Linked DNA regions of Homo sapiens: regions 1, 2, 3, 4, 5 and 6 are each linked to region 7. Evidence: fine-mapped expression QTL. A gene starts in region 7. Each other region holds a variant in brackets. All regions are shown on one strand. Distances are between the middles of the regions.

Region 1 (4,000 bases), 340 kb before region 7:
TTTATCTAAGGCAACAAATGACCTCTTTATTATCTCTATGTTGCCTATAAATTATAAATAAGCATATACTGAGCACTTACTCTGTGTCCAGGGAAACGTTTTAGGGGCCAAAAGAAGAAATTGTACATGGATCTTGCTTTATTGGAATTATCCTGCTAGTTCCTATTAACATTTTTTCAAGCACTCGCCCACTCCCAACTTTAAACATACTCCATGAAGGTAGGTATTGTTGCATCTTACTCATATCTACGGCAGTGCCTGGCATACAATAGGAACCCAATTAATATTTGCTGAATGAGTGCTGGAGATAGGCATCATCGTAGTTTCCAGCAAAAGGATATAACATAACAGAAGAATTTCAGGGTCATTATTTTGATGTTTTCCAAAACTGGACTGAAGGAAGGAGATTTGGGGTGAAGTGTTTAGCTCAGAATTGCTTTCCTTCTATCTTATTTAGGTCATCTTCTCCTTCCAGTGTTGTGATGCAAATTCATGGAGTGATAACTGTTCCATTGCAGCCTAACCCAAGGACAGTTATAAAGGGAATCATTGCCAAGAACTACCAAGTGATATATGAGGTATGTGAACAAACATACAACTTTTTAAAAAAGTAAACATACCCAGGATTTTTAGATACAACTGGGCATATGTCCCCATGTAAGAAGTTCCTTTTGGTGCATACATACTTATTCTCATGATATGAGAATTCTTCAGAACACTCCATTGATTTCTTTGGAATTTCATTCTGCATTTGGGTCAACTGTATTAGAATATCCTTCTGATGATAATTCTTAGGTCTTGGATGTCAGGATTGGTTTTAAAAAATGGATAAAAGCTACTGGGAGACATGAAGCCTGACATGCTGGGTACTGAATTTGGGTATGACAGACATTGGCTAGGGAAGGCTCCTAGGTCAGTTTTATCTAAAGCAACAAATGACCTCCAGAGCAATGACCATTTTACTATGCAACACTGCTTTGTTTTGGGGTCATTTAAAACACTGGTCAAGCTTCTTAACTGCTTCAACATTTTAAATATCTAGCTCTATTTGGCTTCAGATATTTGTCTCTAATTAAGACACTTATTTCTGTACCCATATGAAATGTGTTCTTCCCCTACCCCCTGTTTACAGAGAGAGTTGGTTATCTGAAAGTATGACTTTCTAGTTGCGGTCTGTTGCCACATGGCCCTCTCTGGACATTATTCTTCTGCCTCTATAAAAAAGGACACCAAGCTCATGATTTGTTGTGTAGGCATGCTTCATGGACTCCAGATCAACATAACCTTTGTCATGTCTAATTTTCTTTTCTTTTCACCATGACTCCCTTTTAGTAATAGAAGTTGATCATGTCAACTAGGTAATGAAAATAAATTTCAGGTCTTCCTGCTGGCATCATAAAAATATTTAAAACAATCTCAATAAAACTAACCACAAAATTGTAGTAGTTTGAGTCTTGAATTCTTGACTCCATCAGGCCTGCTCCACTGTTACGCGGCTTCCTTTGCATAAGCCTTGCCTTGTTTACAGCCTCCATTCTGAACTCTGCCTTAATGTACCTCACACTCACCTTCTCAGCTTCATGACATTTTCCTGGTTCCTGCATTCATGGCTTATTTTCTTATTTGTGGCCTCACCTGGCCCCTCCTCTACCTTTAACCTGCTTCATCACACCTCAAACATGATTCTCCTGGTGTCTAAGATGTTATTACTTTTATATCTCAACTGGGGTGGTTGAGAGTTCTCCCACCAAGTTCATCTGGCCCCTCTAGGAGAGCCTAGAATATCCACAGAGGAAGTGACCCTAAAGGGCACTAAGAGCAGGATTTATTTTCCAACATAAGTTATAAATTACATTTACTTATACCAAAGTTTAATCTGAAATCCTAACTATATTAGTGTAGAATCTGAACAGCCCTGACTCAGAGCCTAGGCAGATGTGTGGCTGTGGCCAGCAAGACCATGGGTGGTAATATTTACTACTGATTTACTGGGCAACCTAAAGATGCAGCTGGAAAATTTGACTTTACAAACTGATATAAATGCCAAAATTACATAGGCATGACTTTTAGCCACTCCACAGGACAAAGAGGCAGCAGTAGCTGAACTAGGAAATGCTGCTTTTAACGCTTTCAAGGTTGGCTCAGAAACAATGAAAACTTTCAGCAGCTCATCCCAGGGAGCAGCAACAGCAATGCATCTGCACAAAGCCAGAGGGCTGTTGGCCTGTTTTATTTTTTTCTTTTCCTTTTTCCTCACTTTGCTTCTTCCAAACTTTGTAGCCCTTTGGCCTGCCTTCACCCATGTGCAAGGACTAGCTGTTACTT[A/G]CCATGCCCTTTAGTGTCAGATCTGCTAAGGGAGACCGGTTGCCATGGAAATCTGGCCAAACATGTAAATCAACAGTAAGGAAACCCACAGGCTGAGCCTTCTTAATCAGATCCAGGTGACTGTTCAAATATGCATATATACTCTGGCATCTGGAAGAGAAGTGAATTTTATTTTTAAAGGGGGGATAGGGTCAGGGAGCAAATCATTCTATAGAAAGAAACCATTTGTACTTCCAGATCCAGGAAAGTAAGCAGGCTCCTAAAAGCTTCAGAGAAGCTAGCCCACTGTACTCTCAAATCACACTGTACTATCACCAAGAAAGGTGCCACATCCTAGTAGAAAGGTTTGGAGTCAGAAGACTGGATCCAGGAATGGCTTTACTCTTAGTAGATGTATGGCCATGAGAAAGTTATTCAAACTTTCTGAACCACCCTCTTCTCATCTGTAAAAACAGATATCATAATCCCTGTCCAACTTACCTCATAGGGTTATTGTGAAGATCAAAGAAGATTATGTATGTGAAGGCGCAGTATTTTGTAAACTGTACAGTACTGGTCATATGTCAATAATTTATTAAAATCAGTATTCCTAATTGTAATAATGATGATGAGTTGATAAATGGAGAGAAATTATAAGTTCCCAGACTCAGGATAGGATTTTGCTAAGTAAAGTGACTGAATGTCATAAATGCAGTTAGGATCAGGAGTTAGAGACCTGATTTTCAACCTAAACCCACCAGATGACATTGTGTACGTTTTTTCTTTTTCTTTTTTTGAGATGGAGTTTCAGTCTTGTTGCCCAGGTGGGAGTGCAATGGTGCAATCTCGGCTCACTACAACCTCCGCCTCCCAGATTCAAGCGATTCTCCTGCCTCAGCCTCCCCACCCAGCTAATTTTTGTATTTTTAGTAGAGACGGGGTTTCACCATGTTAGCCAGGCTGGTCTCAAACCCCTGACCTCAGGTGATCCACACATCTCGGCCTCCCAAAGTGCTAGGATTACAGGTGTGAGCCACCTCGCCTGGTTTTTTTTCTCCTTTTTAAGTCTCAGTTTCTTCATGTGTAGAATGAGGGAGTCAAACCAACTCCTTCATTCTTTACATGTTCAGGTGAAGAGGAGGTGGAGAGAAGATGATGGGCATGAGAGCACTACTCAGTTCAAATCTTGATACTACCTCTCCTAGCTCGGTAAAATGGGCCAGTGACTTAACCTCTGACCTCCAATTTTCCCACTCATAAAATAGGTTTAATAACACCTACCTCACCGGGTTAAATCACACCACATGACACAAAGATGAAAGCTGGTCAACCTTCCCCTCTTAAAAGATGCTGCTTTCTAAAAGTTCTGAACCAATGATTTCAAAAGAAAGTGGATATTGCAGTAGTTGGCATCTGTGCTACTTCCCACTGGGGTCCTTGGAAGTCTCTTTAAAGGTTAAAAACATGGCTTGTATAATGGCAGAAAAAAAAGTATAGGAAATCAATATCCAAAGGAGGTTAATATCTAAGATACCTAAGGCATTATTTATGCTTTGCATTTTAAAAGTGTTTTAGAAGGAAGGCTCAGTGATTTCTAGTTCTAGTTTGTGATTGGGTGAGTGATCCCATGGATCCCATGAAGTTGCCAAAAGTTTCCTGTACTTGGTGTAGGGAAACAAACCAATGAGTAGAGCAT
Region 2 (4,000 bases), 310 kb before region 7:
TAATATTTCTATGACCATGGAATTCAGCTTCTTATTGAATGCCTTTTATGGTGGGGAAGTCACTCTCTCCCAAGAAAGGCCATGGCTCCTTTTTTTAGAAACTTTCCTGATAAATTCATTTAAATGTTAAGGTAATAAAAATGGTCATTTTGGAAAGAAACTGATAAGGTGTTTCCCTGTTGGCTCCCTCACTATGGCAGAGATTGCAAAGGTGGTCCCCATTCTCCACCCTTCCTGTGTCAACACTCTTTGCAATGAGACTTTGCAGCTCCTCACATTGAGATGTGGGTCTATCTCCCTACCCCTTCAATCTATGCCAGTCTTGTGACTTGTTTTGCCAAGAGAATGAGGCAGATGTGACACTGGGTCAGTTTTCCAAGCCTAGGTCTCAAAAGGGCTGTGTGCTTCTGTTCTGTCTTTCGCTCCTCAAACTTGGCCACAAGACCATGCCCTACAAGGCTGCTGGGTGACAGGAGATGTGCAACAGAGCTGAGTCTGTTCAGTTGTCTCAGGTGATGTCCCACATATATGAAAGAACCCAGGTAACATCAGCAAATATTTGTAGGTGACCAGCATTGACTAGCCCAGATCATCAGACTCACCTAGCCAACCAACAAACTTGTGAGCAAAAATAAATGTCTACTGTTGTTTGTCACTAAGGTTTTCTATTTGTCTGTAACTTAGCATTTGGGGGACTATAATAACTGATAGATTTCTTTCCTTTTACAAATATGTACTGCTACCTAATAGCAATCCTGTCCCCCTATTGGGTGCTGGGGACACAAAGATGAATCAGAGTTCTTACTTTCAAGAAGCTCCCATCTAGTGGAGGAGCTATACAAAAAAATAGACAAATAGAATATAGTGTGGTTCATGAGATGGTAAAGACAAAATACAAAATATTGTGGATGGGCACAGGAGGTGAGGAATGTACTAAAGATTATACAAAGATAGAGGCCGCCATTTAGATATATACCCCAAGGCCAACTGCCCAGAGTCAAGTGGTAAAACTTAAGTCATTCTGATTTCCCTGAGTTGCTAGCTCTCATTATAAACAAAGCATAAAACATAAGCTTTATCTCCCTGTCAGCATGATTTGATGAAATTAAAACATAAGCTTTAGGTCCTTGTCAGCATGATTCAGGAAAATTAAATCAATCAACTATAGACAAATCAGTTTAAACAGTCCTGTTTCCCCTGAAAAAAAAATGTTAATACATAACAGCCAATGACTAAAAAGGTCAAAATACTTTCTCCTTAATGCTTCATAAACTGCACTGTAACTGCCGTAAGGTGAGCTTCTTACCACTTGAAGTCTTGCTGATGGCAATTGGTACTTTTTGTAAGATAGAAAACTTTCAAATTTTTCCCTAACTTGTTCTCATTTTACTTTTGACAAGTGGAAGGGTACAGAGGTGGCTTCTTAGAGAAAGGGACATAAGCTAAGTTTGAAAAGACTAGTAGGATTTTGCTAAAGTGAAACAGGTGTTCCAAGTAGAGGGAGGAGCTTGAACAAAGCCATGTGGGTAAGAGAGGTGCTCTCAGTAATCAAGATAGTGCCATTTTTTTAAAATTTTTTATTTTATTATTATTATTATTTTTTAACAGACCATAGCAGTCCCTTCAACAGTAAGGAAAGCATTTAAAGAGATGAACTAGAACGGGTGGGGATAGACCATGTGTTCATTCATCTGCAGTGGTACATGTTTCTCATCTATTCAGCAGTAAGGAATGCTGAAGTCACATTTATGGTCACAGAAATGTTTAGCTAGAGGGTAGGGAAGAAAAGGGAGTTAGGCATACAAGTTGTATTCCAGCAGGTCTTGAGGCTGGGCAGAAAATCTATTCATTTATATATTTCACAAATATTTACTCAGCCCTTACTATGTGCTTGGTAATGTGCTAGGCCCAGAGGATACAGAAGTGATTACTAGCATTTTAGCATGGGGACAGACCTTATTTGTCTTGACCTCAGCTACCCCGGTTCTCTCTTTACTAAACAAGTGATTCCTCAAATCAGTAGGATTTCCAACCACAAAATGGGAAG[G/C]GGGGGAAGGAAGGCAAAAAACAAAAACAGCATAACATTGTGAACTTTAAATTTTGTCAAATAAGGACAGTTTTTCAAAAGGGATATTTTAACATCAAAATAGAATAATTTCAGGGAGAAAAAAGATAGGCTTTCATAAGAAAAGTAAGTTCAGCTTAGATTAACATATACATTTACTTCTTTACTGGTTAACAGATGTTTCCTGAGTTCCCAGTCCAGGTCTGTGCCAGGCACAGAGATAAATGGTGAACAAGAGCATAGTGCCTGTACTCAAAGAGCATCCGATCTTGAGAGGGAAGCAGACCAGAGTGAACAATTACGCAGGTTTGGCCAGGACTTTCCCAGTTTCAGCGCTGAAAGTCTTGCCTTCTGGAAAACCCCTCAGTTTCAGCCAAACTGGGGCAACTGGCTACCTTAAGAAAAATATTAATCAGATCATTACACAAATATGTAATTACCAACTGTGAGAAGTAAATGAGGGAAAGCCAAAAGGTAGTAAGAGAGCACACAAGGGAGGTACCTAATTCAGTCTAGGTGACAGGGAATGCTTCTCCAAGGAAATGGTACATGAATTAAGATTTAAAACATGCATGGAAATTATTCAGGTGGGTGAGTGTGAGTGTTGTGTGTATGAGAGAGAAAGAATGCACGAGTGAGCTATGGTGAATGTTCCAGCCACAAGGAGAGCATACTAACTGGTACTTATTTTCACCACTCTGCCTTTCTTTGCCCAGTGAAAATTTTATCACGTGCCAATTCTAGAAATTGCTTTCCTAAGTCCCAGAGCTTCTTTGAGATGAATGAGGCAGTCCATATTCATTACCACTTAGGACCCAGGGTTTGCACAGGTAGAGCCAAAGCCAAGTCATCTCTTTCTGTGTCTTGCAGCCCCTTGCCTCCAGAACTCTTGGCCCCATTTGACAGATTAGTCCCCAAGAGGTTGTGTAAGTTGTCTATGGTTAGTACATGGATGACCACGATGGGATTTCAACTGAGGCAGATGTTGACCTCAAACTCTATGATAATGCTCTTTACTTGTATGCATAAATTGCTTAGGAAGGATACACTTCACCTCCCTTCTCCCCATCCCCTGTCCCACAATTTGGGGATGTTACTGCATCAGCTGCAGCAAGACTTCATTAGAAGATTGTGGCTTTGCTGCTTTGCTGCTCAGAAATGTCAGAGAATGGTTTTGCTTGGCTCTGTCCAGGGAGAAAGTTTTGAGTTGACCTCTGTTTGTGCCCACTCATCTGGAATAGCACATGCTTCTCCTCAGACATCCTGTGTAAAGCAAGGAAACAAAGAGTACTTCTAGTCACTCTCAAACCCTGTGTTCTTAGAAGAATCTAGGAATTCCTAGTTTGTTTTGAGAGAGAGAGAAAGAATGTACACTTGTGTACTTATGTGTTGTTTAATCTTTTGCAACAAACCTAAATATTTAAAAATCTTTTTGTGAAAGCCCCTTCCATGCTGATGGCTGTCTTGGCCTGGAGACTGCTCCATGACCCTAAAGAAGGGGAGCTCATCATACTACATTGATGACAGGTGTCCATGCAGGACACTGACTTCCCAGTAATAACGGCACTGTTGGCAACAACAACAATAGTTGAGACTTACTGTGTACTTAGTAAAGGCCTGATTCTAAGCATATTACAGGTATTAAATCACTTAAAAATTCTGTTATTATTCCTATTGTACAGATATGTAGACTGAGGCAGAGAGTTAAATAACATGCCCAGTGTTACAAAAACTGAAAGCAGTCAGGCATCAGGTTCTATATTTGTCTCTGCCAAATTATAGTCTTAATTTTAGGCTACCATTACTTCTTTGAGTCTTTCATCTGTTTTGAAGAGCAGAAAGCAAGGGCCATTAGAGCCAACACAGACTTACTCAAACTGAACATAACCTTCTGGCCTTGATGACAAGTAGGTTAGGGAATCTTCATTTCTAAAA
Region 3 (4,701 bases), 64 kb after region 7:
AGTATTAAATCATGTATGACCTTAGACAGATTACTTAGCCTTTCTGGATTTCACTTTACTCATCTACAAATTGGGAGACTGTAAACCAACAACAAAGTATTGTTGTAAGGATTAGCGATAACATAAGCAAAGCTCCCTGCACAGTACAAGACCCTGGGTAAGATAAATAACACGTCTGGAGACCTTAGTTTTGGCTCCAAGATTGTCTCTGACTTCATAAGACAATTATTCCATGAAAATTATATTCACATTGATGAATCAAATACTTTCTGGAGCAAATATGATTGATTCAGTTTGTATTTTTGATTGAATTTCTGTACAGCACAGCTCGCCATTTCTGATTTTTCCCATTTTAATTTTATTATAATAAAATATTTCTTTATAAATTGTGAAAGAAATATTTTATGAATTAATCAGTACTTTTTACATGATGAACTGAGTATAGCTTCTGTCACTTCAGGTTTTCTTTTGTGAACATTAATTCTATAAAATTCTGTTTCAAATTCTATTCTTGTTTAGGAAGAGTTGATATTTTTGTTAATTGGTGGTCAATAACATTCTACTATATGTGATTTTCATCCATTATATTTTGCATCAAGTATTTCTACCAGTAGTGTTCATTAAGGATCCAAAAGTCATTGAACATAAGACTGAGAAGTAGCATCTGTGGTTTTTTAAAGCAAAGGATAGAGAGCATTACTACAGCAAGGAAGAAGTATGACGTGAGTCAGAGTCAAAGTGGTCGGGTCAAAACATCCTTCTTCATTCCCAATCTCCCTTACACTCCTTCACCGTGGACTGGGCTTTTGACATTGGCATTCACCTGATCCCCACCTGAGCTGGCTGTACTCTTTGCACACCATTATTGAAGAGAATAGACATATTAAAGATCTTTGATTCCTTGTTGCTTTCCCTGATGTCCTTCATGCTTGGAGACAGCCTCTTTTTGCTTTTTACCAGCTCATTCCAGCAGAGCTTGCACCTGAGTTTGCAAGAACCTTGTTTTAGCAAAGAAACCTTATTTTGAAAACAAATTTGTGGTGAGGAGTAAAAGACACAGTGTTGACCAAGAATCTCACATAATGTCTGACATTGTGGCCCTTAATTTATAGGAATTTGTTCTTCTATCCTTGCCTCTGGGCTTGTTCTTTTCTCAGGGAGACAATGAGGTCCAATGGAAAGGGCATGGGCTTCAGAATCAGACTGATCTGGGTTAAAATCTGAATTCTCCCGTTTTTTAGCTGTTACTGGATGAGTTATTTCATTTATCTGAGCCTCAGTTTTGTTAGTAAAGAATGGGAGAAAAATATTTTTTATATATGGGCATTGTTGCAAAAGATAAATTACAATACATGTAAAACATTCACTCAGGAACTGGGAATACATAGTCCCTGCCCACATATGGTGTAGGGAGGGACTCAGACATCAGCAAATAATAATCAAATTAATAAATTATTATAATCATGATGGCGACATTGAAAGGGTTTCTGTAAGGGCAAATAAGAAAATCTAATGTCATTGGGGCTTGGGAGTGTCACTCAAACCATGGTACACATGATGGCTATGCCACATTTTCATATATGTGTGTGTCTTAGTCTGTTTTCAAGCTGCTGATAAAGACATATCCAAGGCTGGATAATTTATAAAGAAAAAGAGGTTTAATGGACTCACAGTTCCACATAGCTGGGGAGGCCTCACAACCATGGCAGAAGGCAAAAGGCATGTGTTACATGGCAGCAGGCAAGAGAGAAAATGAGAGCCAAGCGAAAGGGTTTTCTCCCTATAAAACCATCAGATCTCATGAGACTTATTCTCTACCACGAGAACAGTGTGGAGGATACTGCCCCCATGATTCAGTTGTCTTCCACCGGGTCCCTCCCACAACACATGGGAGTTATGGGAGCTACAGTTCAAGATGAGATTTGGGTGGGAACACAGCCAAACCATATCAGTGTGTGTAT[G/T]TGTTCTTGTGTATGTGTATGTGAACAGTGGATACAAGTACAGTCTTTGTAATTAGGCAGATGTGAGCTTGAATTTTGATTTTTACCACATATAAGTGAATTTTGGCAAAGTGTTTAATTTTCTAAATCTCAGTTTCTCATCTGTAAAAGGGGGTGCACAATACATCTACCACATGGGACTGTCCTAAGGATTTTCCTCCCCTTCCTCCTCATCTCTAACTTCTACTGAGTGCTTTCTGCATGCCAGGCACCATATACTCAGTGCTCTACATCCATGTAATCCCCACAGTAATCCCCTGAAATTGGGACTATTAATATCCTGAGGAAACTGGGCCAAAAAGAGGTTGGAGAACTTGCCCAAGGATATACACTCATGAGTGATAGTTAGAAAGAATTTCAACCAAAAATCTGGCTCACAAGGCCGTGTGTTTTACACAAGATACATGGAGAGAGAGCTCAATACCTGGGTGCTCTTCTCATCCTGATAATTTATCATCGTTTTTGTTTCCTCCATCAAGGGGATATAGATTTTCATTATTCCTAACCATCTGCCCAAGATCTATAGAACACAATAGGTGCTCTGTAAGTGCATTCTGAATAGATGAATGTACTGGATGTGGCAGAGGCAGTCCCGTTGTAGAGGTGGTGGGTGAGGTGGGACAGGATTAAGCACCCTCCCCCGCTGCTCCCCAGTACTTTCAGAAAGCCTTTCAGCACCCTTGATTGCTATGTGCTCTGACAAATGCATAAAATATGGTCCCTTTCTAGTTGCTTGCTCGGTCTGTTTCTGGAGAGGTGCCAGCCGTCTATTTGATCAACTTCAGGCAGCAGTGTGGTAGTCAAGGCTGAGCAGAGTGCAGCCGGCTGAGAAAATGGGTAAATATTTTATAGACCCTACGGTAAATAATGTATACATTCAGAGAAACAAGGTGAATCTTTTATAGGCCTGAGCCCCTGTTAAGTCAGCAATTAAATGCTGGTGCTGGAAGAAATAAAAGCTAGTCCTAAATCTTCCTACCTTACAGAGAGTCAAGGCCTGCACTTAATCTCTGGGCAAGAAGTTCAGTCTCTTTTCACTGATGCTGATTATTTTTTGTTTTTATTATTTTTTTTACTATTTTTTTGAGAGTCAGAGTCTTATTTTTTGAGAGACAGACTCCATTGCCCAGGCTGGAGTGCAGTGGCAGCCTCAAACTCCTGGGCCTCAAGCAATCCACCTGCCTCAATCTTCTGAGTAGCTAGGCCTACAGGTGCACATCACCATGCCTGGCTAATTTTTACATTGTTTGTAAAGACGGGGTCTCCCTGTGTTGCCAGGCAGGTCTCAAACTCCTGGCCTCAAGCAATCCTCTTGTGTTGCCTTCCCAAAGTATTGAAATTACAGGTGCAAGCCATTTCTTCTGGCCTCTGTTCACTGATGCTGAGTTGCTCAAATTTCAGTATTTTTTTCTGCAAAGAAAAGTCCTTTTCTTTATTCCAATGCTACTTGTAGTGTATATGCACAAATGTCTCTTTACTTACATTTGCATATATATATATTTATATTGAGTGTCTATGTGTAGACCTTCACATGTGAGATTTATTTTAATCCTCACAGCAATTCCAGTGAGGTGCATGTAGTAGGTACATAACAGATATTTGGTTTCCTTTGTTTGTTGAGGACCTACCTTGTGCCAAGCCCTCCCCTAGGTGGTATGGTACCATAAGCCTGGAGTGTACAATCTAATGGTAGGAGATAAATAGTAAACACGAGTTTCGCATGGAGGTAAGTGCTGGGGAGAAAAATGAAGCTGAGTAAGGGGAACAGAAAATGCCGAGCAGAAGGCTTATTGGCAGGATAACCTCGGAACAGACACTTGCAGTTTGGATGGTGGTGGTGAGCATGTTCCTATAGTTTCAAGGGATTATAGCTAATGTGTTGTTTGGCCTAATCAGGACCAAGGCATTTATTCCCTCAGCTTCTGGAAGCTGCACCCCTTCGCTGGAACTGCCCTCAACTGATGGAACTGTCTCAATCAAGTTTTGTCCCTACTTTCCAGGGGCAGTTCACATCCAATGACTGTTGATGCAGGTTTTTAAAGACCCGACCCCTTCTGTCAATGGGAATAACCCTGAGTGGGCATCCTGGGTGGCATTGAGGATCCTATCACTGATGGTATGTGAGGCCCTGATAGCCTTGGCATGCTCCAGTGGTGCAATTGTTAATTAGTGGTGAAAAGGGTAGGATACCAGTGGAAGGGAATGCAATAGTCGTTGCAATATCTCAGGCATTTAACAGGTTTGGGTGAAAGAGTAATTATAAGGACAATGGAATCGGATGTGTGTAATTAATGCATTGGAAAAATGCATAATGAAGGCTGGGGGTGATTAATCACCAGTGTATGACAAAATGTGGCAGTCAGAAGTCCTTCTTGGCAGCATATGAAGCAACACTCACTGCAGCCAGAGGATGAAAAAAACTGAGGCTCAGGCCTGGGACTTAACTATAAAGGTAGCAGAGCTCTAGAGGAGACTGGATTCTCAACCACAGTAAGCTGGCTACACCAAGGTCAGGCCCTTGATTGGGAAGGAGACTTGGGGTGAAAACATCTAGGTTAATGTAGTTAATGCACACTAAAACCTAGAAACCCCAAATGTCTCTGGATCCTCTTGGCCTGTAGAAATGGAACAATTTCCTTTTTTTTTTTTTTTTCGAGACAGAGTCTGGCTCTGTGTCCCTACTGGAGTGCAGTGGTGCGAT
Region 4 (4,000 bases), 97 kb before region 7:
ACTCTTCCCAGTCGATTTCTCAGATTTCTCAACACCTAACACGTGTCATGCACTCTGTACCGGGGTTATAAAAGTGAATAGACTGTAGTATCTTCATCCAAAGACCTCCTAGGCTGTTAGAAGAAAAATGTATGTCAAGAAATAATTACACTACAATGAGAGAAGTTCTTGAAGAACTATAGGAAAAATGAAACAGTAGTGTGTAACTGCCCAAAAGAGTCTGTGTAACTGCCCAAAATTCACAAATAATATTTAAGTTGGGTCTCGAAGGGTGAATAGCAGTTGACAAGCAGAAAAAAGGGCAAATGATACTCTGCGGGGAGGAAACAGTACGTGCAAAGTCAAGAAGACATGAAAAGGCCTGGTTTGCCCAGAGATTGAGGAGATGTCTGATGTGGCTGAAAGGCTGGTGAGTGATAAGGACCAGCAGGAGATGAGCTTAGTCTCAGTGCTGTGAAAATATCACCAATTTTCTGAATAATGTGCATTTGGAGCTGTCTGGATAAGGGTTGAAGATGGTAAGGAAATAAATATGTAAAGTGATAGTCCATGGGTTTTTCAATGCAAATCTGAAGTTACCCTTGCACTATTCCCTCCAGAAGGTGAATATTTTAATGGTAGACAATAGTATTTAGCTCCATTTGCCTAGGTCTTATACGCCAGCAACAAATAATAAAAACAGCAGCAGGAATAGCTAATGTTGAGTCCTTAGCAGGTTGTACTATGAGCTTTATACACTTGAACCTGTTCAATCCCGCAACAAGCCCATGAAATATAAATAAGACAATGAAGTGCAGAAATGGTATGTAACGTGCTCAAGGTCACACAATAAGTCCCAGGGTGGGCATTTTACACCAGAGCCAAAGTTCAACCACTCACCCTCGAGTCTACTATCCTTCCTCCATGAAGGATGCTCTCGGATTTTGTAGGGCCTGAAGCTTTTATGTAAAGGCTCTTTAAGAAAAGGAATACAATTATGAATATGAGATTAAGTACAATAGTGATATTTATTTACAGTAAGAAAAAAGTTTAAAAACAAATACCTTGAGCTTTGAGGATGTAGGTCCCTTTTATCTGATCAGTGTACCCTTTGCAGGGCTGGATTAATGAAGTTTGCTTGATAGGGCACTAGGCCCATTATTGGCACTCACCTCTAGAACAAAGAAAAATACTGGCCCTTCCAAGGCAAAACAAAGGCAGACTTTTCCCCCAACAGATCCCTTTTCCTTTGTAAGAGACACTACGCAGACCTTTGGTCCTCCACTGAACTACATTTAAAATAGCTTTTGTGAAGGATAGACACAGTGGCCATTCTTATATATGTGTGTGCAAGCAGCAAAGAAGTGATTGTAATATGAACAATGTGTACTTCTTCCCACTTCTGACAGAATAGACGACATTGTGTCCTGAGCCTGGGAGGGGGTTGGGGGCCAAAATAAAGAAACCAAACCTTAAGTTTTATTACATGAAATTCTGATAAAAAGCACTTCGAAGCCTCTTTCCCATCATCAAAAAACCACACTGGGCAAGATCAGAGCTTAACAGCCAACAAAAAAACACATTCAATCCCTGAGATCATTTTCCTGAAATAGAAAACTACATATGTTTCTCAAATTTCACATCAAGCCACTGCAGAGGCCAGACTGCAGGGCTGATTTGGGCCAAAGTAAGTAAGAGAGAAGGGAGAGAGGAGGGGGATGGGGTGGGAAAGGGAGTAAACAGGAGAAAATGAGCCCGTTCTTCCACATCACCACATTTCTCTAGCACAATCTAAACTTACAAACACCCCCTGTTTCACAGAACTTGTAGTGAGGCTTGCTTATCGGGCAGCCTTTACTTTGTCAAATTAAGACACATTGCCTTGGATTAGCAAGACTCCTTAAATTCAAAATGACTTCACGGTTGGCTCAGAGTGCAGTGTCTCTAGGGCCAGCCGCCAGGAACACAT[C/G]CACTGCAGAGGTCCCTCCCCCACATACTGACCTACCTGACTTTTCCATGGAGACAGCAGAGCAAAATCCTAAGCAGACAGGCTGTCAATGTTAATTAAAGGTCCAAACACCTCTTTAGAAACTATCTCCAGCTCAATATTTATACAGAACATAAGACTCCTAACAGGCAGGGTTGGGGAGAAGAGGAGGAGGTTAAGGGCGGAAATAGGTTTGAATGGCATTTGGAATCCATTAATTTTTAAAAGACAGGCTGCCACCTTATATAGACCCAGAGAGGTTCAAAATGTAACAAAACCAGGAAGATGAATGAGCTGAAGATTGTTTAGAAAGCCTGGCAAGAGTGCTCCGCTTTTGAAAAGAATAATATCTGGGCAATAATGAGAGCTGACATTTTTTATTGGTGAATGCAGTTTTTGGCACATTTTAACAATACAGGTTGACAATTTTTTGTATTTAACAAAAGGAAAAGCAATCTTCTAAATGATCTGGGAACAGAGGGCTCCCTGACTGCAATTTCTTAATAACATGTAAGAATTCTCTTCAAAGGCCCTTGATAATTTACAGAGAAGAAGGAAAAATGAAGAAAAATTTTAAAAGAAGGTATATTTTTTCGAAAAAGAAACAAAATAGAAGTAGTAAAGGAGAAAAAGGAGGAAAGGAAAGGGTACAGCATTTTAACATTAAATCATAGCCCAAAGGGTTGGATTCTAAGGTTTGACTTTAGCAATCTCCTTTCAAAGGAATGAGTTTTAAAGGAGAATCCAAAAGGAGATGCTGGTCAACCCCACTACATCTTACAGACTCAGAACTTTGGGCCTGGGAAGTACTAAATAAATCACCCACTCCAAGCAGCACATTTTGCAGATGAGAAAAGTCTGATATGGGTGCCAGGGGCCCCAAGTTACCTGGTTGGACCAGACACGAGTCTTACGAGCTCCAAGCCACACCACTTCTGTATCTTGTGATGTAGGTCCTGAAAACCGCCAAGCCTTAAGAGCTCTAGTGCCACTTGATTCCAAGACTGAATACTGATACCTTTAACCAGATTGACTGATTTGAACCTCTACCAAGGTTCTTGAGACTACCAAGAATCACATAAGTATAACATATTCCGAAAGTATGAAGTTCACAAAATAGTCCACTGACAGAGTTAGCCACCCTGGGTAAGAAATGAATTTAAGAGTTCACAAAGACTGAGATGCCCACTGTATCCTGAGGGAGGCCTTCTTGGGTCAGGAAAAAGACTCCTGAACAAGGCATGATCCAGGAATGTACCCCTTAAAATTTAACTCTTATTCCACACACTGGCTTCACCCTCAGAATGAAACCCTTCTGAGTTTCAGTTCTGTTCCCTGAAACACGAGATCTAACTCTCTAGCATCTTCACAGTTCCAAAACATTTTCAACAGAGAATATAGTATCATATCTATTTGTAAGTGAGGAATCAAATTCAGAGAGAGTTCTACTTTATCATATTGAAAAAGCAAATGAAATTAAATTCCAAAAGTGATTCAAGGTCTCAGAGAAAATTGTTCAGTAAAGGAAAAGCTATACTGCTGCTCAGTTGGAAAATGACAGTCATGCTAGAGATCATCTTTCAGCCACATAAAATCCACATCTAGACGTACACAGCAGAGAACTGGGGAAAAAGCTTTATAGAAATGGAACAGATTCAGACTAGTGGTTCTCAGTGAAGAGTGCACATCATAATCGTCGAGGTCACACAGTTTTACCCTTTCCTCCAAAGGACAAAGATGGGGCTTCTCACCCTTTTCTATCCAGATTTGCTTTACTAATGAAAAGAGAAAGAAGCAACCTCAACCTTCCTCAGACTTTGCCTCAATGTAGCAGAGAGGGACAGTCAGTGATGTAACAAGTGAGTACAAGTGCAAGGCACAGTCCCTGAGAACCTGTGCCTTAACTCATGCTTCTCATGATGTTAGCACCTCCTACTTCCTCCTACTCCCTCCGACTCCCCCACTGCCTCCAGCCCGACTGACCCAGCATGCTTCATCCTCTCTCGCCCTCCCTGGACTTTAAGCCTCTGAACT
Region 5 (4,000 bases), 52 kb before region 7:
CCAAAAGTGGATGCTTTTCAGGGTAGGGGAGCAGAGCTTTTGGAATTAAAAGTGGTTTCACAAGTTCCCAGGCCACTAATATTAGCATCACCCGTGAACTTGAGTTAGAAATACAAAATCTCAAATTTTCAGTCCCTATCCCAAAGCTACTGAATCAGAACCTAAGATCTCCAGGTGATTCATTTACACATTGAAGTCTGAGAAGCACTATAGCCCTCCTGGTCAGGCTTTAAGAAGATGCTAAAACTGACTTTAGAAATCTCTTTAATTTTGATTTTGCAATCATGTTAAAGCCAAAGGAATTCTCAGCAAGAATTCCTGTACATGCTTACCAAAACACACCCCACACTAGAGGCTTACTCAGAAAATTCTGAAAGAAAATTGATTTTTTAAAATAAATTAATATAAGATGTTCTCAGAGGGTCACAAACACTGCCATGTAATCTAGACTTTAACTATTTCCTATGGGATTTATTTAGTGCAGTTTTATCTCAAGTGCGAGATGGTAAGAATCCTGAGAGGTTCGTGCCAGATATGCATTTAGATCTCCTGGGATATAGGCTGGAGCTGGCCACATGGCAAGTGCTCTAGAAGGCCCTGACACTGAACCAATGACCCTCCGCCCAATCCTCTTTGCTTAACTCAGTATAACTTTTCTTTCTGTGTTGCCAAAAAAGGTGATATATCCAATCCAAACTTGTTGATATAGCAACAAGTTTAGGCCAAATTGAAGAAGACCACTGCCATCATTCCTGGTCCTACGCCAAGAGCCATGCTTCACAGAGGGATTTTACTACTGCATGACATGATGGAATAAGCTGAGATTTGGAGCCCAGCAGACATGGATTTAAATTCTGGCTCTATCACCTGTTTGGGAAAACCTCCTTAGGATCAGTTTCCTGTGCTATCTACCAGGCACAGACCATTAGGATTAAAATCAACTAATGCTTATACAACTCAAAGCAGGGTACCGGGCAGCGCAGAACAGTTCTATATTCCAATTTTGTGTTTCAGTATATACCCGAGTCAGGTTTTCAAACTGGTTAATACAACTCTCCCACTTTATACATGAAGAAAGTGAGGCCTGAAATAAGAAGTGCTTTGACCAAAGCATACAATTGTTGACAGTAGAGTCAGAATTAGATTCTTGAAAACTCCTGACTCCTAAGAAACTCTGTTTTCAAACTCTTAGCAACCACAGAAGCCTTTATGTAGATTAAAACTTACAAAACAGCTCAATATATAAAATAGCTAAAAAGCCAAGCCTGCTTTGATTGCTGAAGCCCTTCTTTCCTACCACTCTCCTGCCCCGTGATGGCAATCCTTAGGCACCCTCTCAGCAACCTAAGCTCTCCCCATCTCCATTTACAATCTGAGTAATAGAAGACTCAGCCCACCTGAAATCTCAGAGCCAGTAAATGAATCACAGCAGGTCATGCTCATTAGATGGATTCTCTACTTCTCCAGACCACCTAGAGGTTTTCAAGTCCTTGAGATTCCCAAAGGACTTGAACTTTCTCACACATCCATCTCTAATGGGAACCATTAAGCTGACATCACCATTCTCCACACTTCAGAAAGAAGTCCTAACAT[C/G]TGGAAATGGGAGCCACCTGCAAGTGCTTTGACCAGAGATTGCCATATCATTTAAGGATGAGAAACTCGAGTGCAGGTGGGATGAGAAAGGGAAAGCCTAAGATGTCAACAAGGCCAAATATTAATAAGTTGGGGCTAAAAGTGTACAGAACAGCAAAGCTCTGGTCAGAAGATATGGACTTAAATCCCACCTCGGCTGCTTTCTCATTGGAACGGTAATTAACCTCTCTGAACTCCAATAGAATACTGGGTATTAAAAGAATTGATTTTGTTCACATCCTTTGCCCAGTTGTTGATGGGGTTGTTTTTTTCTTGTAAATTTGTTTGAGTTCATTGTAGATTCTGGATATTAGCCCTTTGTCAGATGAGTAGATTGCAAAAATTTTCTCCCATTCTGTAGGTTGCCTGTTCACTCTGATGGTAGTTTCTTTTGCTGTGCAGAAGCTCTTTAGTTTAATGAGATCCCATTTGTCAATTTTGGCTTTTGTTGCCATTGCTTTTGGTGTTTTAGACATGAAGTCCTTGCCCATACCTATGTCCTGAATGGTACTGCCTAGGTTTTCTTCTAGGGTTTTTATGGTTTTAGGTCTAACATTTAAGTCTTTAATCCATCTTGAATTAATTTTTGTATAAGGTGTAAGGAAGGGATCCAGTTTCAGTTTTCTCCATATGGCTAGCCAGTTTTCCCAGCACCATTTATTAAATAGGGAATCCTTTCCCCATTTCTTGTTTTTCTCAGGTTTGTCAAAGATCAGATAGTTGTAGATATGTGGCATTATTTCTGAGGGCTCTGTTCTGTTCCACTGGTCTATATATCTGTTTTGGTACCAGTACCATGCTACTATAAAGACACATGCACATGTATGTTTATTGTGGCACTATTCACAACAGCAAAGACTTGGAACCAACCCAAATGTCCAACAATGATAGACTGGATTAAGAAAATGTGGCACATATACACCATGGAATAATATGCAGCCATAAAAAATGATGAGTTCACACGTCCTTTGTAGGGACATGCATGAAGCTGGAAACCATCATTCTCAGCAAACTATCACAAGGACAAAAAACCAAACACCACATGTTCTCACTCATAGGTGGGAATAGAACAATGAGAACACATGGACACAGGAAGGGGAACATCACACACCGGGGCCTGTTGTGGGGTGGGGGGAGGGGGGAGGGATAGCATTAGAAGATATACCTAATGTTAAATGACGAGTTAATGGGTGCAGCACACCAACATGGCACACGTATACATATGTAACTAACCTGCACGTTGTGCACATGTACCCTAAAACTTAAAGTATAATAATAAAGAATAACCGAAAAAAAAAGAGGAAAAAAAAGGCATAAAGGCATCAAAAAGATACACTTTTTCTGAGATTGCTTCTTTGCTAACTGATTTTTCCTTCCACCACGACGTCTAAGATTAAAAGAGAAATTGATACTTAAAAAAAAAAAAAAAAAAAAAGAATTGATTTTGGATGGCCGGGCACAGTGGTTCACACCTATAATCATATCACTTTTGCAGGATCACATAAGGCCAGGAGTTCGAAATCAGCCTGGCCAAAATAGTGAGACCAAGTCTCTACAAAAGAAACATTTTAAAATTAAAAAAAAATGATTTTGGAGTCAGCCAGTCTTAGGTTCAAATTCTGGTTCTGTCACATATTTACTTTGTCACTTTGAGTGAGTTGTTTTATCTCTATGAACATTCGTTTTCTTGTCTACAAAACAGACACCCTAAAATAAACACCACACACAAACACTTCATAGGGTCGTTGGCCTTCAAAGAGATAATGTGTACAATACTTGTCACAGTGCCTAGTATGAGTTAGGCACATAAAAACAGGTGTGATTTAACTACACTGTAATCAATAAAATGGGATCAACCTTCCTCCTAGTTGCTGGGAAAAATCAAACATAACCGATTTTAGCAGGGTGCCTGGTACCTACAGGTCCACAGTAACAGGAATCCTCTACTATTGTTGGTATCTTCTCTTAGACCCTATGCACTCACCTCTTTCAGCCACAGAAGTTTCGGGGCCTGCATTTCCACAGACATCACCCCCCCGACGTACTGGAGGACACTGTGCTTGGTCTCATTGATCCTGTTAACTTGACTGACTGCTCGATGGTCCAGCCACATGATGACGTTTCGATGGGAATCCCCTAGCAGAAACGAGAGGGAGATGCAGATGGACACACATTCTCTTCCTTCTAATTCAAGGGAACAATTATGGATTCCCAAGATCAAAATGCTATGTACTTTCTATAATTTTATGTATCAAGAGTGTGCAAAATGAAAGGACACCAGCAAGGCTGAGGAAAGCACTGTCCCCAGGCCTGGAATTTCCCGTCCAGTCATGTGTTCTCTGACCATGACCTTAGAATAAATGTCTAC
Region 6 (4,000 bases), 220 kb before region 7:
GCAGCCAGTGACGCAAGTGCAATCTTAGACTCTGGGCCCCCAAACACACACTTTTCTAGCAGTCCGTACCTTTTGAACTTGGAGTAGGAAGTCCTCCTAACAGGTGCTTGGCAGTGTCAGAACCAGTGGCTGGATTACTGTGTGTTTTTTTGTTTTTGTTCCCCAGTTCAGCAAAGGAAAATAACAGCTCAGCTAATTTTCTCGGCCATATACTAATACAGGAGAGAATAAGTGAAACCTTCTGTTTAAAAATGGCCCCAGAATACCAGATACAGTTCTGTAGTAGATGAGATGATCAGAGCTTGTTTAAAATGAGAGGCTCTGGGCACAGAATAAGACACCTTGCTCCATTTACTAGGTACTACTTTTCCATTGTTTGATGCAAGGGTTGCACTAAAGCTGATGTGAAGACAGAGGCACACAAATAAGGGTTTGAGTCTTGGATCCAGTCTTCCTGGTCCTGTAACCTTAGGCAAATCCCTTCACCTCCTCGAAGGTCAGTTTTCCCAACCATTCGTGGGAGGTAAAAATACCTTCCCTATTCCAAGGGTAGTTTAAAAACAGCAAGTCACTACAAAAAGATTAAGATTAATCTTTGAGATTGAGATTGTAAGCATTAATTAACAAATTTAGTAAACAAAATTAACGTCAACATTAATATTGTTTATCTCTCCACCACACAACCCCAATAGCTACGCATCCCATTCCTACCCTGATCTAATAAGCCTGGCCTTATTCCCCATGATTGATGGAACCCAGACTCCTGTGCTGCTTTAAATACACTTTATTAGAGTCACTTCTCCACCCTGGGCCTCAACTTTCTCATCCATAAAATAGATCTACAAACGTCCAGAAGGATATTAAGCAGAAGCTCTATCTTCCACTATAGATACAAATATGCATTGGTGTAAGTATGGGCTAACGTAAGTAAAGGCACAAACATACCTACACACAAATAGATTCACTAGCCAGGTCAACACGGGAGAGCTCATAGGCTCTGCAATCGGTGGGTCCAGGAACCCAACTTTATAATTTATTAAAATGTAACCTTTGGCAGGTTCTTAAACCTTCATCCTTGTATGTTAAAGTCCAAAAATAATTGTAGCTCACAGTGTGGTTGTGAGCTCACAATAGTGAATAGTCAAGTACCTAGCAAAACACTTGGCACAGCATAGGTATTCAACGATTGGTAGGTGAAATAAAAATAACTGCTTTGAGCTCTTTGGAAGGAACTCGAATAGCAGGTGTTTTTATTATTTCCAGCTCTGGAGGAGATTCTTTGGAGCTTTTTGTAGATTGTGACAACAAAACAAAGAGATTTACTCAAGTGTGGCTCAGGAAAACTAAATTACCTATTTAATAACCACCAGTGAAGCTGCCTGTGGCCATTAAATGGGATATAAGGTATAAAATGGAATAACAAATCAGGAGTCATTCCCTTTTCCTAATCTGGAGACAGTGTAGTACAATGGGGCGGGGACCCTGGCTGATGAACTAGGTCACTCAGATTCTAAATTTGACTCTGAAAGTAATATGCTGGGGTAACTTTGGATGATTCACCATTGTCTGGGCCTCAGTTTTCTCATCTGCAAATTGAAGAATTTGGTATACAGAATCTTTGAGCAGCCTTTTAGTTCTAAAGCCTATGATTACTCATTATCCAAACAGGAGTGTATGTATTAAACTCAAAATATTATGGTTTCATGGCAGGTTCACAGCCATATACACTGACGTGTGGCACAAGATTTAAAAACTGGGGACACATGGGGAGCTGGCAATAGCACCAGGCCCTGGATTCTCTCGGTTTTCTTCCACAGAGTCAAAGTCTGGTCTCTCAGCTAAGGCCAGCCTTCTGCAGTCCAGAGAATCACAGCACTCCAAGAAAGCCTTGGAGCCTGGGAACAGGAAACTCAGTTATCCTTCCCCCCACGTATGCTCTCTGCCCCTCCCTCCATCACATGAGCTGTTGCCAC[G/A]GCTCATGAACTGCCGAGGTCTCAGGCAGTAGTGGGTCGCATTAAACCGAACCTCAACTTAAAACAATAAACTTGCAATCCCATGAATACGTTCTTCCTCTGCCCTCTGTGATTCACATCCAGGAACTCCCAGAGTTGTCCTTGCTCTATCTGCTCAGGGACTGGCACGGTTTTCTCCTTCCAGATTCCACGGCATGACTTTATCTGCATTTCTAATCCCCCCCCACCCCCAATTTCTTGCAGACCGTCTGCCTCTTTGGATCCATATTCTCTCTCATTTTGGACAAGCTCCCTCCTGCCCCCAGCTTTTGGCCAGCGCCTGGCCTGGCTCCTGCGCAGCACGGTTCTGCTCTGGTCTGATCTGCCTACTTGGCAGAAACACATCAATACTGCTTCTGACCCCAGTGTCCTCAGTGCCAACTCATCCCCCCAGGCTGTCTCCTCTGGGTACCAGGTGACATTTTCCACACTTAGAACAAGATTCCAGGCATCCTCAGCAGGGTAGGGCATGGGAATCTATATTTTCTTAAAGTCTCCCTCACCTATATTTACCAATTCTTATTCTGGATTTTTCAAAACCCTCTTATATTTATTATCTTAATTACTAATAATAGTAATTAAATAATTACATTGATTTAGTGAAGACCAGCTATGTGGATTTCATGCTGGATGATGGGCATACAAACGTGAACATGATTTGGTGAAAAAACTGAAATAGTTGTAAAGTATTTCACAGATACAGCATAGAGAGTGATTGGTGCTTTTCTAAGAATGGATTAAATTTGGAGATGTTTCCACAAAGTAACATTTAGACTGAGTGCTGATGGATGAGTAACAAAGGAAAGGAGGTGGAATGTGCATGATGTGCTGAAAGACGGCCAAGTTGTCCCGTGTGGCTTGACTCTGAAATAGATGAGCTAGAAACCATCCTGTCCTCCCTACTCCTCAGGCTTCACTTCTATTATTTTCTTAATCTCACAACTACTTTTACTGAAGAGTCAATTTCACAAAACACATTTCAACAAAGTACTAATGTATCAGCAAAACCCTTATTGTGGGCTGCTTTTTGGCTTCTATAGAAATAAGCTGAATTGATGAAGAGAAATAATATCACTGGAGGTGTTCCAGGAGAGAATAGGGTTTCTCACCTTCAGTGCTACTGACATTTGACATTTGAAGCTGGATAATTCTTTGTTGCAGGGGGTTGGCCTGGGCATTGTAAGGTGTTTGGCAGCATCCCTGGCCTCTACCCACCACAGGCCAGTGCCATTTCCCTTTCCCCAGAAGCAATAAACAAAACTGTCCCCAGACATTGCCAAATGTCCCCTGAGGGGTCAAATCACCCCTGGTTGAGAACCACTGGCCTAGAGAAAAGATATATGAACCTTGGAGGCAGACTCAATTTCAAATCTTGCTATGAGATTAGTTATGTGATTGTGGAAACATTATTCTTTCTGCCTTCAATTCCCTCATGCAGAATGGGGAAACAACCTCTACCTTGTAGGCTTATCGTGAGGAGCAAGATATAAAGTCTGAGCAGTATCAGGTAGAGTACTTGGCACATAGGACACATGTAAGAAATGGTCATCATAGTAGTACCAGTCAGAGTGGTGGTTGTATTTGTTCTAATTAACAATGTTATTATTTTATTATTAGAAATGAAGCCTAGTTGAAGTTTAAAAGTCGCAAAAAATATATAAATTCCACTTTACCAGGAAGCAATAACAGGGAAAGCAGTGTCGTAATTAGATTACTGGACATCACTCCCTCTAGGAATCCTTTAATAATTGTTTAAGTCTCAATTTTAGGCCCATTTTATGTTTTTCCAAAGCCTTCCATACACGGCACAAGTAACCGTAACTGTTTATTTACTTGTCTATTTTCTTTACTAGAATACAAATTCCCAGAAGTCCACTTCTCTCTCATAGTCACTGTCTAACCCCATGAACTAGTAAAGTGGGTCGTCAATAAATATTAAAGACTTTCCTTTTTCAAAATTTGTTACTTGCTCACATTTTTAGGGTCAA
Region 7 (4,598 bases):
GGGGGTTCCACTCTGGCTAGGAGATTAAGGGCAAGATTCATTACCTCAAATTATTTTAAAAACCAGCTGGTAATTGACTGTGATTTAAACTATTTAAATCAATAAGTGAAAGGTTAGGTAAAGGGAACTATTTAAACTAATAAGTGAAAGGTTAGGGAAAGGGAACCAAATTCCAGGAAAAGCCAAGGCCCACAACAAAAACTAACACAGCCTGGAAGGCCCAGCCTCCTCCCAGTAAACTTATTAATTTTATCCAGAAAGACATGGCTCTCCACCCTCTGGGGTTATGCCCTTCTCCCAGCACACATGTTTTGACTTCCAAATCCAGCCAGGCAGGCTCCCAACCTCCCTCCCCCTCAAAATTGATCTCCAGGCCCAGCTGACCCCCTCTGATCTGTTCCCCCAATCATCCTTAATAACAGTGCTCTGGGCCTCCCACTAGGAGGTCCTCCAAGAGCCAGGCCAGTGGCCATCAGGTCAAGAGCCAAGCATGAGGGCCCCATTAACAGGAGACTCCCAGAAGACCAAGCGGCAGTCATCTGGCTGGAAAATCCAGCAAGCAAGTTAAAAAGGAAAAAAATCAGGACATACACGTGGTGGATCATAGAAAAAAAAGAGGAAAAGCAAGCAAAAACTATACAAAGCAAAACTCTACCATTTAAATAACAGCCACAAAATAAAAGACTTTCCCTTCTTTCATTCTGATTTACAAGTCAAAAGAATAAGCACCTCACCCCTCCTGGTCTCATACTTTAAAATTTAACCTAAGGATTAACTGCTTTTCAGACTTTGGTCATGTCATGACTGACTCTTCGGGGAAGAAATTTGTGTTAAGACACAGAAGTGCTTTAGTGGAAAACAGCCCATGATGAGGGAAATTCACCATTTTGCACCTTGTCAATTTTTTTTTTTTTTTTCTGAGACGCTCTGTCCCCCAGGCTGGAGTGCAGTGGCACGATCTCAGCTCACTGCAAGCTCCGCCTCCTGGGTTCACGCTATTCTCCTGCCTCAGCCTCCCGAGAAGCTGGGACTGCAGGCGCCCGCCACCACGCCCGGCTAATTTTTTGTATTTTTAGTAGAGACGGGGGTTTCACCGTGTTAGCCTGGATGGTCTCGATCTCCTGACCTCGTGATCCACCCGCCTTGGCCTCCCAAAGTGCTGGGATTACAGGCGTGAGCCACCGCGCCCGGCCCCTTGTCAATCTTTAAATAAAAAGGAAACGGCTAAAAATGAAAAGATATCCCTAGGCCTTTCTACTCAGGATAACTGTAACCAAACAGCATTATCTCATCTAAACTCAGCTGTGCCTCAAACATTATCACAAGTGCTGGAAGCGTTTAAATCTACAAGCAACACTAGCCTAAAAATGCCTTCGGTAGCCAGACGTGAATTAAAGGCTCCTCAAATGCCAGGAAAATGTCCTACAAGGGTAAGGGGAGGAGAGAAAGAGTACTGAATACAGATAAGTGGGCACTGATCGGAGAGGAAGCAGCACGGGTTCCAGACACCTAATAGGCAGCCTTGGGGATGCAGTCAAGGCCGACCCTTCCCTTCCCTTCCCTTAAGTGGCCGGACGCCTCACCCAGAAGAGGACACAGGGGACTCAACAACGTCTCGGGAACAACGGCCCGGCGGGTGTGAGACTAAGCGGCCAGGAGGAGGAAGGGGAGGAGGAGGCAGGGGAGGAGGAGGCAACGACTGCGGGAAAGGGGAAGGAAGGGCCGGGCCGGGTTGGAGAAGCCTCTTTCTGGGCGTGCGCGCTAAGAGCCTGCGCACCAGCAAAAGCCCCCAGCGCCCACGTGGGACTGAGAGGAGGGTCACTTACAGTACTTGTCCAATCTGAAATTACATTTTAGCTAGACGGATTCTGCACGTAGCCGCGCCGAACCCCACGGCGCCTGAGCAGGGCGGTCCCGGGGCGGCTACAGCCCCGCCTTGCGCGCGATCCCGCCCCCGCCGGCGCGGCCCCTGTAAAGCGCGGCCCCTGTAAAGCGCGGCCCCTGTAAAGCGCGGCCCCTGTAAAGCGCGGCCCCTGTAAAGCGCGGCCCCTGTAAAGCGCGGCCCCTGTAAAGCGCGGCCCCTGTAAAGCGCGGCCTGATTGGCCCTTTGAACCGGGCGTGGGATTGGCCGTCGCCTGCCCACCCCGCGGCTGCAGCGTTCCCTGGGGCCTAGCCAACCGCGGGCAGGGCTGGGCAAGGCGGGAGGAGCGCGGACCCAAGATCGGCTACGCTGCGTCTGCTCAGGCTGCGAGTTCCCGGCTCTGGGGACTCACCTTGCGGAGCTTACCCAGGCGGACTCTCCGCAGCCCCTGATGGGTGTGTGTGTCAGACCGTTTACTAAACACCAGGACTGTTGTAGGCGACTGTAAGAAATAAGAATATTGCATGGTTACAATTCTTGAATGCTTACCTTGTGTCTTGTTCCTTACTCTACAGAAATTTTCTAATCCCGTGGCGAACCCCCGTACTTCAACGTATGACATTCTGTAAATCTACAAAACAGATGGGTCCCTGCCTTTGAGAAGTTTTTACAATTTAGTGGGTACTGGACACGGACCTAATTTAATTCTCACATGCCTTCCCTTTCTAATAAGCTGCATGTTATGTATCCCTATTCTACAGATGTGGGGAATCCGAAATTTTTAGCTTTTACTGGGACACACAGCTAGCAAGCAACTAAAGCGAGAATTCCAACCTGAGCTCCAATCCGAACTATTTTCATAAAAGGCAGGATCCCAGGCTGAGGGAGTTCGAGGTTTGGGAGACAGTTTAGCAGTCGCTGAGTCCAAACATGTTGTTTTCCTAGAAAAGAAAACTGAGATCCAGGAAAGGGAAGTGATTTTCCAAAGACACACCTGTGAAAGGTAATAATTTCACTGAACGGATCTTAAGTGGCAGGTGCACTAAGATTGTCTGCTATCTTCACAACAACCCCGAAGTAAATAAGTGCTCTTATCTTGGTCTTACAGGTGAGGAGAACAGCCCAGTGAGGCTGAGGCCACACAATTAACCCCAGTCTTTGCACTACAACTCTACCAGGGATCCTGGTTTGGCTCATTTTCTTTCTTCTGCACCATGATTGTTCACCTTTTCATTACCAGCAACATACCCAAAGACCTAGCTATAGACTCGTTGGAATCTGTTACTTAGCAGCTGTGTGAATCAAGTGTTCAATAGGAATAATAAGATGTATTCATCTTACCTTTTCAGAACATTATGAAGAACAAATGTGGTAAGACATATGAAAATGCTTTGTAAAGTGTTAGATGCTTAATACACAGAAGACATTGCTTCCAGATCTGTTTCAACGTACCCCAAGAATGGAATAAGTGGAATATGCTGGTTTCATGCACTGTGGCAAGGGGGTCTCATCTTGGCTAGACTTGAATAAGTGGATTTGTTGCCTGGCCTCTGTGGATGGCTCTTTCTCTGGGCTTTTGTGTATTTGATTTTTTATTTGCTCCAGCAGCCGTGTTGAACCATGAAAGGACCTCAGGAATGAAACCCACACACAGCAAAGCAACAAAGTGAAAGAAGCGTGGATTCCTAATGCAGGAGGCACTGAACCAATCAATACCCACTGCCCTCCAGACCTCCACATGAAAGAAAAAAACTGCTGTCCTGTGTAAGACACTTTTATTTTGTGTTTCTATTGTATGAGGTCAAACCTAATAACAGATATATTACACTCTAACAGATACATTACATTGTATAGTAGAATTCTCAGACAGCAACCTTATAAGGTGATAGATGCAGAAACAGGCCCAAAGAGTAAAAATAATTTGTTCAGAGTTTTCCAGCCAAGTGGCGAAGGTGAGATTCTTACCTGGGTTTGTCTGAAACCAATTTTCACTATCTTTTTCAGTTATGATACACTGCCTATTACGAATGAATGAATCCTTTTTTTTTTTTCCATTTACTTCCATTTGATTCATTTATTCCAGGGAGTGACACTTTTTCTGTAAAGGACCGATAGTAAATATTTTAGACTTTGTGAGCAATACAGTCTCTGTTGCAACTACTCAACTTTGTAATGTAAAAGCAGCCATAGACAATAGTAAATGAGTAGGTATGACTATGTTTCAATAAAACTTTACTTACACAAGCAGGCAATGGACAATGTGGCCCATGAGCCTTAGTTTGCCAACCCCTAATGAAATGGGAAAAGTTCCCTTGTCCCCTTCACAGGGCGTGCGATGTGGGTGTGACTCACTTCTTCAGTCCCCACTGCACAAACCTCTAGGGAAGCATACAGACAGGTAGGCTGTGGAGATCTGACCCCACGGCAGTGTCTAGGGGTGACTGTTTACAGCCAAAGCCCCAGTGGGCACATGTAGCAGGGTGCTCTTTTAGTTTAGCCGTCCGTGGGTGGCTTGTGTTAGCCAGCTCAATTAAACCCCTGCCTTATTGCAAGGACAGAGGGCTTTCTGTATCTCGGGGTTCTTGCCTTGGTGTAGCAGAAGAATTGGATCACACGTGGGCTTGGAGAATGATTGCAAGGTTTTATGGAGTGAAAGTAGCTCTCAGCAGGTGGAGGAGCCAAAAGGGAGATGGTTTTCCCCTGGTGTCGGGCCGCTTGGCGGCCCAGGCTCTCCTCC

Direction of the effects. Alleles are on the strand shown, and positions count from the first base shown. SD is a standard deviation of normalised expression in the study named. Not every link is listed here.
In carriers of allele C in region 2, the expression in stomach of the gene that starts at base 1,640 in region 7 tends to be lower than with G alone (large effect, 0.78 SD a copy in GTEx).

Evidence for each region. PIP is the estimated chance that this variant, and not a neighbour inherited with it, causes the effect.
Region 1: its variant is fine-mapped to the expression of FGGY in whole blood (TOPMed, PIP above 0.99).
Region 2: its variant is fine-mapped to the expression of FGGY in stomach (GTEx, PIP above 0.99).
Region 3: its variant is fine-mapped to the expression of FGGY in whole blood (TOPMed, PIP above 0.99).
Region 4: its variant is fine-mapped to the expression of FGGY in pancreas (GTEx, PIP above 0.99).
Region 5: its variant is fine-mapped to the expression of FGGY in whole blood (TOPMed, PIP above 0.99). The same link has a PIP of 0.9 or more in esophagus muscle.
Region 6: its variant is fine-mapped to the expression of FGGY in pancreas (GTEx, PIP above 0.99).

The regions. Positions count from the first base shown.
Region 1 is chr1:59,636,703-59,640,702 of GRCh38, reverse strand. It overlaps FGGY (FGGY carbohydrate kinase domain containing), which reads right to left. Exons shown (of 16, transcript NM_018291.5): 11 at 2,328-2,475. Among named protein-coding and RNA genes, the nearest start is that of MIR4711, 95 kb to the left of the region's middle. The variant A/G (reference allele first, on the strand shown) is at 2,326.
Region 2 is chr1:59,603,737-59,607,736 of GRCh38, reverse strand. The region is part of intron 8 of FGGY (FGGY carbohydrate kinase domain containing); the gene reads right to left. Among named protein-coding and RNA genes, the nearest start is that of MIR4711, 130 kb to the left of the region's middle. The variant G/C (reference allele first, on the strand shown) is at 2,048.
Region 3 is chr1:59,230,485-59,235,185 of GRCh38, reverse strand. No RefSeq gene overlaps it. Among named protein-coding and RNA genes, the nearest start is that of FGGY-DT, 64 kb to the left of the region's middle. The variant G/T (reference allele first, on the strand shown) is at 1,962.
Region 4 is chr1:59,391,279-59,395,278 of GRCh38, reverse strand. All of the region lies in intron 5 of FGGY (FGGY carbohydrate kinase domain containing), which reads right to left. Among named protein-coding and RNA genes, the nearest start is that of FGGY, 96 kb to the right of the region's middle. The variant C/G (reference allele first, on the strand shown) is at 1,949.
Region 5 is chr1:59,346,015-59,350,014 of GRCh38, reverse strand. It overlaps FGGY (FGGY carbohydrate kinase domain containing), which reads right to left. Exons shown (of 16, transcript NM_018291.5): 4 at 3,617-3,768. Among named protein-coding and RNA genes, the nearest start is that of FGGY, 51 kb to the right of the region's middle. The variant C/G (reference allele first, on the strand shown) is at 1,594.
Region 6 is chr1:59,519,235-59,523,234 of GRCh38, reverse strand. All of the region lies in intron 7 of FGGY (FGGY carbohydrate kinase domain containing), which reads right to left. Among named protein-coding and RNA genes, the nearest start is that of MIR4711, 210 kb to the left of the region's middle. The variant G/A (reference allele first, on the strand shown) is at 1,974.
Region 7 is chr1:59,294,136-59,298,733 of GRCh38, reverse strand. It overlaps FGGY (FGGY carbohydrate kinase domain containing), which reads right to left and starts at 1,640. Exons shown (of 16, transcript NM_018291.5): 1 at 1,584-1,640. FGGY-DT (FGGY divergent transcript) reads left to right here and starts at 2,184. Exons shown (of 2, transcript XR_001738089.2): 1 at 2,184-2,365; 2 at 2,970-4,598. RefSeq lists an enhancer at 1-181 and silencers at 1,599-1,688, 1,699-2,238.